Regions from separate parts of the Homo sapiens genome. Here region 1 is linked to region 2. The links come from fine-mapping of genetic effects on plasma protein levels. Region 2 holds a variant in brackets. A gene starts in the other region. All regions are shown on their forward strands.

Region 1 (5,385 bases), not on the chromosome of region 2:
TCCTCCAAGGACACAGGGACACTGGCTAGGAATCACAGAGACCAATTCCACCACAGCTAACTGGTTCAGCCTGCTTTCTTCACACGTGATGGTGGATAGATTGGTTTTCTATTCTAGTCAATTAGATTGATTGGTTGTTACTGCCTGAAGAAAAGTGTGGTGATACAGCCTCTTGGCTCAACAGGAAAGAGTGCTGGAGGCCACTGGGAAGATGCACTGGCCGGTGGAGGTAAAGATGCCATGGTGGGCAGAGCAGAAATTAGGGCAAAGGGGCAGGATATGCCTGTGTTCATCGGCACAGCATTTAGACCAGGTAAGCAAACTCTTACTGTAAGAGGCCAGACAGTAATATTTTCAGTTTTGTGGGCCATACAGTGTCTGTTGCAACCACTCAGCTCTGCCATTGTAGCCTGAGAACAGCCACATATATGTATGCAAGTGAGGACGGCTATGTTCCATTAAACCTTTATTAGACACTGAAATTTAAATTTTTTGTCATTTTCATGTGTCATAAAATAGTATTTCTCTTTTGCTTTTTTCCTACCATTTAAAAATACAAACCTCATTATCAGCTTGCAGGCTGTTTTAGCTGATTTAGATGAATAGCTCAGGAAGTAGCTCTATATGTAGTTCCAAACCTCCAGATTCCAGCACCAGCCTGTCTTTAAAACATGGGGGTTTCTTCCTGCAGGATCTCTGTATATTTGGACTCCTTTCTCCATAAGGTCCCTCCTAATGCTGTAGAGAGTCCTGGGCCCTGTAACCTCCAGGAGTCCCTGAGGCCTATGCATTTTCAACTGCAAAACACCCACCACCCCCATCTTATAGGATTTTTCAGAAGGTGCAAATATCTTTGGACCTCCAGCCTACAGTTTTTCAGGCAGATTCAAGTAGTTCAGTGGTTTATCCTGGAATATTTTCTTTTCTTGGTTTCCAAATAACCTCTCATTACCCTCATTCCCTTAATCTTCAGAATGTGGCCACTCTCAGGCTCAATGAGGCCTTTTCTGCAACTATCCAAAACTCAAGGTTATATTATACATATGGGAATCATTGCATAACCCCAACCCAACATGTGTACATGTGAAGGAAAGTGAGCATGGCAAGCCTGATATGCAGGTGCAAACGTGATATAGCCAGTAAGTGACTTGGAAGCTCTGCAGTAGGGTGGGTAACTGCAGAAGGCACAGGCCAGAAAGGCTTCATGAAGCAGGTGGAAGTGCACATGAGCCTGGAAGACCCAGTAGTATATCCATGAGGGGCAGGACTAGCCGTTGAGTGATGTGGGGGATGCATGGATGTTTAAGATGTGGTCAGTACCTTACATTGAACACAAAAGTGTCCAGTTGAGAGGATTGTGTGGGCTTTGGTGATGTACTAGATCATCAAGACATAAAAGTGGATGTGATTGATTAGCATAGGGATTTACCAGGCATTGTTAGATGCTTTATATTAGTTATCTTATAAAAAAAAATACTCCTAAAAACCTCTGAGGAACATAATATTATCCTCACTTCATAGATGAGAGAGCAAAATTTCAGAGAGGTATGGTAACCTACGAATTCACACCGCTAAGAAATCAAAACGGCAGGATTGAAATCCAGGTCTCCTTGGCTCCACAATCACCAGATTAACTAGGTTAATCTCTAGATTACTCTAAGCAATGAGAAACTGAAGAAAACTAGAAAAACATTATATGAAACACTTTTCAGAGGAAACCAGACAATATGATCAATGAAAGGTGATTGTCTTGCAGTTCTACTTCCTTTCCTGGCTCTACTTGCTGCTGCCCGGTGCCCATTCATTTGTCTTCTTACTAATAGTACATTTAGGAACACTTATGTAAAAAGAGAAATGGGATAAACTATCATGACTCTGTCATTACAAATATAAGAAAATAGAAAAAAATCTGTTAAAGTGAATTACAAATGTGTATGGATTAAGCGGCTTTTTAAGGATTAGAATAGTTACCAAATGTAAAAAGGAGGAAGAAGCTCATCCTTGAAAAACATCTAAATCTGTTCCAGGTTGGCGGGGAGAAAGTTCTCCTAATCAAAGTGCCAGAAAACTCTGAAGCCTAAACCAACAGGTGCAGAGATACTCACCAAGGATCAAGGAGAATAGCAGAGCCATGACCAAGGCAGGTGAAGGTGATGAGCTGAAATTTAAGGCTAGAAGGAGGTCCCCAAGCAGCAATATTTAGTTTTAGCTGCAAGTATGTTAAGAGGAGGGACAAAGACAGGTCCTGAGTGCAGGCAAAGCATTATCAGATGATCAGAAACCAATAGACTCGGGGGGCAGAGCTGACAGAGCTGGACTTGCTGAAATCAGCATGTTCCAGAGGAAAGGAGGTGGCCAGAACTGGCGGAAAAATGCTGAAAACAAAATAGAAACAGGCTATCATGACTTGGTTCTGCTGTAAGTCCAGCTCCGTCTGTCTCTCCTACAGCCCCTTTGCTATGTAAACAGAGGAAACACCTCCCACAAGGAAAGGCAGGTGCCAAAAATATGGCCATCTCTCAGTAGAAGACAAGGCAGTACTTAGTCGCCAAGGATGGTTTGCAAGGGAAATAAGCCAATTTTGATTCCTTTACCCCAGAGGGAAGTGCCTAGAAAATTTGGAAGCCAGAGGCCATGGGATAAATGCAGAGTTGCCCTTGGAGGCATATCCCATAAAACATAATCCAGGGTCATGGTGCCAATCTCCACATACAGGCCTGGCTTTATTGTCTTCAAACCTGCTTTCTCACTGCTAAGCAGAGGGTCCAATATACAGATTTGTTATTTTTCTATGCTTGTGCTGGTGTATGCCCATCTTTGGAAGCTGGATGGAAACAGATCCCTGAGGTGAGGGGCATCATAATCATTGAACTCAAGTTGTCTGTAGGTCTAAGACATGATGGACAGAGATTAAGCAGTAAGACCCTCTCAGGCCCCTCTGCTTTGCTATATTATTAAGTATAGCTATGCTTCATGAGCTATTCTACTCCAGATTGATCAAGCAATCAATTTTGTATGCTGACATAATCTCTGCATTCCAAGCAGGGTAATTGTTCCTCTACAGTAATAATTTTTGCTTCTTTGTAATATTCAGGTAACTCAGCAGAAAGCTTGGTTCATTGTAGGCATTCATTTTTAATCCCACATTTCTTCATTTACTTAGTATTGTATTCAATGAAAAGTTTTTAGCACTCATGAATGCCAGGCAATGTGATGGGTGGAGGCAGTACATGAAGGAACAAGGGATAGTTTTGCACTGTAAAAATATATGGTCTAGTAATTGCAATAACATGTGGAAACCACTGTTAAGAGAGAAAAGTATAACAAACTTTGGAGGCCAGGCGAGGTGGCTCATATCTGTAATCCCAGCACTTTGGGAGGCCGAACTGGGAGGATAGCTTGAGCCCAGGAGTTTGAGGCTGCAGTGAACTATGATCAGGCCACTGAACCTCAGCCTGAGTGACAGAGTGAGATCACATCTCTAAAATAAGAAAAAGAAATGAAACCTTGGAGGAAATGGTTACTATGTTTGGAGCTAATCAGAGAAGACTTCACAGCAATGATGATACTTGAGCAGGGGTTTAGGATGAGTTAAGTGGAGAATCAGAATAGGAAAAGATTTTGCTATGCATATGCAGACAAGTGAAACAGCATTACTTATTCAAGGAACCACAGGTAGTTTGGAATGACTGGATTACAGCCTGCTTAGTGATCAGGGGCCAGGGCTTCTTGATGTTGAAAGGTAAAGACACTAGATGATATGCAAGTAGCAACAAGAGCCAGATAATGGAGGGTATATCATGAATGAGTTTGTAAATGCTAACTATTCACATCCTTCCCTCTCTAGATTCTGAAGTGACACAGTAATAGGTACAGAATTCAGAAAAGGTTCAAAATATCATCTTTACTGTTGATGAACTACATTAGACTGCCACTGGGATCTAAGGCTTTATGCATTTACCTCCATTCTTCAGGAGCTAGATGTGCACAACAGAGTTTACCCTTGGAAAAGAAAAGACTTTGTGTGGCTTGAGGGCAGACAAACCCATTAGCAAACACAGGCTTCATGATTCAGAAATATATTTTCCCCATTCCATGTGGAAAATTGAGTGAAAGAAGAAGAGAAAAGAAAAAGAAAACTTTTCCTCCCAATATAGTATTTTATGAACAGGCGTGAGAACATGAAGAAAGGAAAAGGAAGCTTTTTAGCCAGGAAGGACACTATCCCACAGGACACAAGAAGCCACCGAAGGGTGTTACACATTTAAGGTGTGTATTTTGGCTGCAGCACTGAGCAGGAATTGGGATGAAGACCAGTAATGGGTCATTAAGACCCATTAAGAGACCACTGCACCAGAGAGAGCAGAGGAGGACTTCAATAGGAGGTAGAAGAACGTACCTAAAACTTACTGTGTTTGGAGGATAAAAGTTACTTAATGTGAGCAAGTAGGCTGTATTGGCTGGCAGCTTCTAAAAAGTGGTAAAGGTCTGAAATAATCACTAAAAGGAAAGCGAGTCTGAAAAAGATAAGTAAACTATCTGTTTTCAGCACTGGGTAGAAAAACTTGCATTTGTAAGCAGCATCCATGTGCCCAGCTGTGGAATCTTCTCAGGCTGCAGACAGAAGGCTGGTGTGAGAGGCCCATAAAGCCAGAGATCAAGCTGAGGGGCCCGCCCAACTGGTGTATGAGGCTTAGAGAAGATCAGGACATGGGCTGATGTAAAGTGAAAACAGAAATAAGTTCTGGGAAAGGGAACCTCAGTGAGGAAGTGCTGGGGAAAAGGAGAGTGTTAGAAAGTTCAAGGTATAGGAAGTTGTTCAGAGATTTGGAGAGAAGTGCTTGAGGTTTCAGAGAAGCTGTTCTGGGCAATGACCAGGCACAAACCAGGGTATGAGAAGAGAGTGAAGGAAGAAGTTTCAGAAGCTGAGGGATTTAGGGAATTGAGAAGAGGTTATCAAGAAGAGGACCGGCAAGAAGAGGGAGGTGGAATGGGAGGCACAGGTTGGGGAAGCCCAAAGCTGTGCGGAAGTAGATACCTGTCTGGAGGACGTCAATACATGACACACAACAAAAGCTAGAAGACACTCTGAGGGGCCCTCTCAGGAAGGGCAAGCTTCATGTCCTGCTGGTTTGGCATCAAGGTGAAACCCCTTGGGTAAATAGTTGAGTATGTCAATTATGGCTCTGTGAGAGTAGAAAACCATCCAAATTGCTCCCCTTTATACATCAAGTGCTTAGAATGTAATAAATGATTGCTGACTCAACAAATGAATGCATGAATGATTGTATTGTGAGATAGAACATCACCGAGGCTTTAGACTCACCATAAATGCCATCTCTTGGCTCTAGTCCTTGTCCACATTGTGTTTTCTGGTGGCTGGGA
Region 2 (5,385 bases):
TGGTTCCATCCCCCAGGGGGCAGCTCTCATTGTATTCTAGCTCCTACCAGGCTGCCCCAGCTTCTAGCTCCTGGCAAATGTCTGTTACCCTTCCAGCCTCAGGGGTGGCAGCAGCTCACTGTCATTGCTACACCGTCCCATTGGGCTTCTCATCATTTTCCTCACCCGTGTAACCGACTTCTAGGATTTAAATTCTTTCTACTTGAAACACCTAAAGTGGCCTCTGTTTTCCTAATTTGACCCTGGAGGATACAGCGTGTAAGAGGATAACATAGTCTAGTCCAGCAGGCCAAGGAAGGTTTCCCTCCAGAAGGGGTGTTTGAGTCAAGGTCTCAGAAATGACTAGGCTTTCCGGGCATAGGAGATAAAGAAGTGTAATGGCCCGAGGGAAAGGCAGATTGACATATTACAAGTACTGGGGCAGGCCGGGCACGGTGGCTCACTCCTGTAATCCCAGCACTTTGGGAGGCCGAGGTGGACGGATGAAGAGGTCAGGAGATGGAGTCCATCCTGGCTAACACGGTGAAACCCCGTCTCTACTAAAAATACAAAAACAAAATTAGCCGGGCGTGGTGGCGGGCCCCTGTAGTCCCAGCTACTCAGGATGCTGAGGCAGGAGAATGGCGTGAACCTGGGAGGCGGAGCTTGCAGTGAGCCGAGATTGCACCACTGCACTCCAGCCTGGGCGACAGAGCGAGACTCCGTCTCAAAAAAAAAAAAAAGGACTGGGGCAAAGTGGGCAATGTTGCTGTGCCACAAAGAAACCGAGAGGGGGACTGTCATGAGATAAGGTTGAAGTTTGCAGGGCCAAAGCAGGGGGCTGGCAATCCTTAGTGCCAGTTAGAATCACCTGGAGATTAAATATATATAAACATATAGTTTGTATATATTTATATATAATATATATTTAATATGTTTATACTGATATAAGTATATATCAGTATAAATATATATTTAATATATCAGTATATAGAAACAAATATTTAAATATATAGATATATTTTATATTTTTATAGATATATATTATATATAATATAGAAAAATCAATAAAAATATATACTGATAAAATATATCAGTATACATGTATATATACACCAGTATATATAAATATATATTAGTATATTATATATATACTGATGCTCAGACCTCATCCCAGATTAACTGAATCAGAATCCCTTGGGATTGGGCCAATATGATTCCTATATGCAGTCAGGGTTGAGAACCGCTGGGCCTTGACCATGCAGGGCCTTGTCAGCCATGATCTTTATCCTGATCAATGGGAAGATCCCAAAAGGTGGTGGGTTCTCTGGCTGTAGGGTGGGGAAGTGATTGGAGGGGTCAGGAATTGAGGCAGAAAATCCTGTAGGCAGCTATTTTAGCAGATCAACATGCTACTGGCTTGCTGAGCATGGGAAGGGACAAAAACTGGTTCTGTACTTGCTGGTGAGATTCTCCAGACTGACCCCACTCAGTTCCTCACATCTGCCATCTTGCTCTGGATTTTCCTACTCCCTGTTGGTTCCCTTCAGCTGGGCTCTGTCCTCGTGTTCATCTGCCCTGGAAAGTTTCCTGCTAATGAACCCTCCCCAGTACCCATCCCTCTTTCTCCTGGGCAGATGGATGCAGCCATTCCACATCCCTGCAGAGGCTATTCTGGCAGAACCTAATATCCTAAACTCCTTAAGTACCCTGAATTTTAAAATTGTGATTGTATTTGGCAGTGTTAATCAAAAATTGGAAGTACTGGAATTAGAACCTTTGGCCAGAGACTCTCCGAGTTGAAAGCCCTCCCTTAGAAATAGCCTCTTCCAACCCCTGAATTTCATTATCCAAGAAGATCCATGAGCTCTGGAGAGTTCAGGACCCAGGTCTCCTAAGGACTTCTGCTTCCCTGGCTTTCCTTCACATCTTTCTGTCCTAAGGATTTAAGACCATGAATTTGCAAATGCTCTGCCTGAAGTGTGTACTGAAGCTCTGGAGACCTCACCCGGATTCCCAGGGCCATAATTATCATAATAATGTACAAACGAGAATCTTTCTGTAAATTTAAACCACTGCATTTTCACTTCTTGCTTTGAATTTGGTTTTCTTGCAGCTGCTCCCTCCAGGGGAGCCAGAAGGCTTATTGTCCCAAGGCAGGAGAGGCTGTGTGAGACCTGGTTTTGAAAGCTTTGAGAAGAGAAGAAGTGCTGGGATTCCTTTATCTCCTCCATTAGCATATCAAGGACAAAGCCTAGAGGCTCTTAGGGATCCCCATGGTCTGCTTGGGGAAGACCAGGCCACCATTGAGAGTGGAGTCAGGGAGGCTCTGGGAGAGCAGCCAGCCCCATGGGAACCTAGAGAGTCATGGGAGAGAAAGGAGGAGGTACTAGAGGTTGGAAGGCCAATGAGGCAGAAGCTTGTTTTCTGATTTTTCTTCCTGGGCCCAAGTCTGGAAGATAGGGTGTTGGATCCATGAGGATATTCATGGCAAGGAGGAGGCTGTTGCCTCTGGCCCTGGAGCCCACCTTCAGAAAGGTGCCAGGAGGGTCAGCTGAGGAACCTTAAGTTTTCGCTTTCTCCTGAGTGGTACAGAGGCTGAATGAACTGCCCAAGGGCCTGGCCTGGGCAAGGGAAGGTGGCACTCAGGCCAACGGGCTGGCTGGAGGTGACAGCAATGGCAATCCAAGAGGGATCCTGCACCTCTAACAAGCCCCAAGATCAGACTGAGAGTTACCCTGGCCCCCAGGGGCTCCAGGGGCAGAGGTGACTGTGGGGACCCATGCATGCCAGGGGCACATCCAGGTGTTACTGGTGGAAGGTGTCCAGGTTCTTGGCGTCTTGAACAAATAATTGGACAAAACGCACAAAGTGAGGAAAGCAAAAGCACAGATTTATTGAAAATGATAGTACACTCCACAGTGTGGGAGCAGGCCGGAGCATAGGGGCTCATGAGCCCTGGTTACAGAATTTTCTGGGGTTTCAATACTCTCTAGACGTTTTCCACTGGTTACTTGGTATATGTTCTATGTATATGAAGACAATGAAGATAAGTTACAAAGTCATTTACTCAGAATGTGCCCAGAATATGTAAATGGAGAGGATGTTATTTGGTGTGTGC[G/A]GTCTATGTAAATGCAGAGGACGAATATGAAGTTACAAAGTGTAAATGGAGCGGATGTCACTTGGCGTGTGTGGTCTATGTAAATGGAGAGGATGTCACTGTGTGTGCGGTTTATGTAAATGGAGAGGATGAATGTGAAGTTACAAAGTGTAAACGGTGTAAATGGAGAGGATGAAGTGAGGTTACAAAGCCATTTATATTCCATTTGATTTTGTTCTAGGAAGTCAGCATGGATCAGCCTTACGTTCATGGCCTCCAGGCCCTATTCTCCTGCCTCACAGGGACCGGCCAGGATCTCTATCCTTACAGCACGTTGGAATGTATATGCTCCTCTCCCCACATCGCCTTAGGGAGCAGGCAGGTGTCAGGGGCAGCACAAGGACGGCCAACAGGACAGGTGCATAAGTAAGACTGATACAATTTGAGGGCTCAGCTCTGAGAATACTCTAAACAGGATCCAAATAACATTGTTGCCTCCTAACCAGCAGGTGGGAGCTCAAGAGAAAGACTAGACTTGTTCCACATTAAATAAGTAATAGTATTTTTTCCCTTGAACATCTTGATCATAATATCAATTAAATGTGTGGCCCTGATTCAATAGCTACCATTTATTGAGCATCTATTTTGTGCCAGACTTGCTGCTGGTATTTGATAGTGCAGTGCCTGACAAGTAGACACACTGGCTTAAATGTCATTGTTACTGGTATTATTGTTACAATGATGTTTTAATCCTCCCAATGTAATTAAGCCTTTATTATAAAGATCATAAGATGTTCACTTTACTTATTTCCTTGTCCTTTTCTTCCTCCGTGCATGCTTGCTTGCACGAGGGAAGTCACTAGTAATTGATTAACTTCCTACCCTAACCCCCAGGGCTGCCTGCAAGATTGATGAACTGTTTTTCTTTCAAAGAACAATGATCCTTAGGTCATGCAGACCTCCTTGATAGCATCTAGGAGTTTGTTTGGGCCGAGGAACTCAAACAGTTTTGAGTATTGGGGGAATCCATCTCCTGCATACCTGCTTTGCTCATAAAAGCCCCCAGTTATGTTAAAAGGCAGATTGGATTTGAGAGGCTGCTTCTCCTGCCTTCTTGCTTTAGCCGAGTCAAATAAACCTTCCTCTGCTTCTAAGTGCTGATGTGTCGGTGTTAGGTTTGCTGTATATCAGGTACATGAACCCAAAATTTGGGGTTTGATAACACTAACAGCTCTGCACAGTAAATATTGTCATCCAGTCTTACTAATGGGGAAAACATGTGCACAGGACTTGCCCAAGGTCACACATTTAATCAGTGGCAAAGTCAGAGTTAAAAATATTTATGTACTTTTTTTTGTTTTTATAATTCAAGGATGTATCACTATTTTATGTACCACGAAGAAAGAAAAACAGCTAACTATTAAACTATAATACAGTATTTCCTTCGCATTTAGAATTTTTGTTGTAAACTCATTATAAAGAGCTCTTTTAAACTCAGTTAGACATAGGCTTTGCTTATTTATTGTGCTTTTGCATATATAGAAAAGAAAATATGAGTGAAATAAATTGGTTAATTATTTTAAAAATATCTTCACCTTCAAACCCTTCTTCTTTTTTTAAATATTGTTTTTAATCATATGATTATCTCAATAGAGAAACCCTACTTCTTTTTTTTTTTTTTTTTTTTTTTTTGAGAAGGAGTCTTGCTCTGTCGCCCAGGCTGGATTGCAGTGGCGCGATCTCGGCTCACTGCAAGCTCCGCCTCCCGGGTTCACACTATTCTCCTGCCTCAGCCTCCCGAGTAGCTGGGACTACAGGCGCCCGCCACCATGCCCAGCTAATTTTTTGTATTTTTAGTAGAGACGGGGTTTCACTGTGTTAGCCAGGATGGTCTTGATCTCCTGACCCAGTGATCCGCCCGCCTCGGCCTTCCGAAGTGCTGGGATTACAGGCTTGAGCCACCGCGCCCAGCCGAGAAATCCTACTTCTTTTAAATAACTTTCCAACTCAGAGTTACAGATATCCTCTGTGTGATCAAGGGTGTTGGCAATGCAATATTAAAAAAAAAAAAACTTTATATTTTGGAACAATTTCAAATTTAGAGAAAAATTGCCAGAATAGTACAAAAATTTCCTTTATACCCTTCAGCAGATTCCCACATTTTTTATCTGATTACATCACCTTATCATTATCTGTGTGTGTGTATGTATGCATGTATGTGTCCATGTACGTTATTATTTTCTGAATCAGTTCAGGTAAGCGGCAGACATGACGTCCCTTTATTCCTAAATACTTCAGCATGATTT

Direction of the effects. Alleles are on the strand shown, and positions count from the first base shown. The strength of an association depends on the size of the effect and on how common the allele is.
As copies of G replace A in region 2, the plasma level of the protein whose gene starts at base 2,240 in region 1 goes down (weak association).

Evidence for each region. PIP is the posterior inclusion probability: the model's chance that the variant is causal. Protein levels are from antibody-based Olink assays in UK Biobank. Linkage for the fine-mapping came from a reference panel and not from the study's own genotypes, which makes the PIPs less certain.
Region 1: it holds the start of CD5L, and the variant in region 2 is fine-mapped to the plasma level of the CD5L protein (UK Biobank, PIP above 0.99).

The regions. Positions count from the first base shown.
Region 1 is chr1:157,839,569-157,844,953 of GRCh38, forward strand. It overlaps CD5L (CD5 molecule like), which reads right to left and starts at 2,240. Exons shown (of 6, transcript NM_005894.3): 1 at 2,106-2,240. The coding sequence starts at 2,133.
Region 2 is chr14:95,574,109-95,579,493 of GRCh38, forward strand. The region is part of intron 1 of LINC02318 (long intergenic non-protein coding RNA 2318); the gene reads left to right. Among named protein-coding and RNA genes, the nearest start is that of LINC02318, 3.2 kb to the left of the region's middle. RefSeq lists enhancers at 1,711-2,633, 2,634-3,555. The variant G/A (reference allele first, on the strand shown) is at 3,101.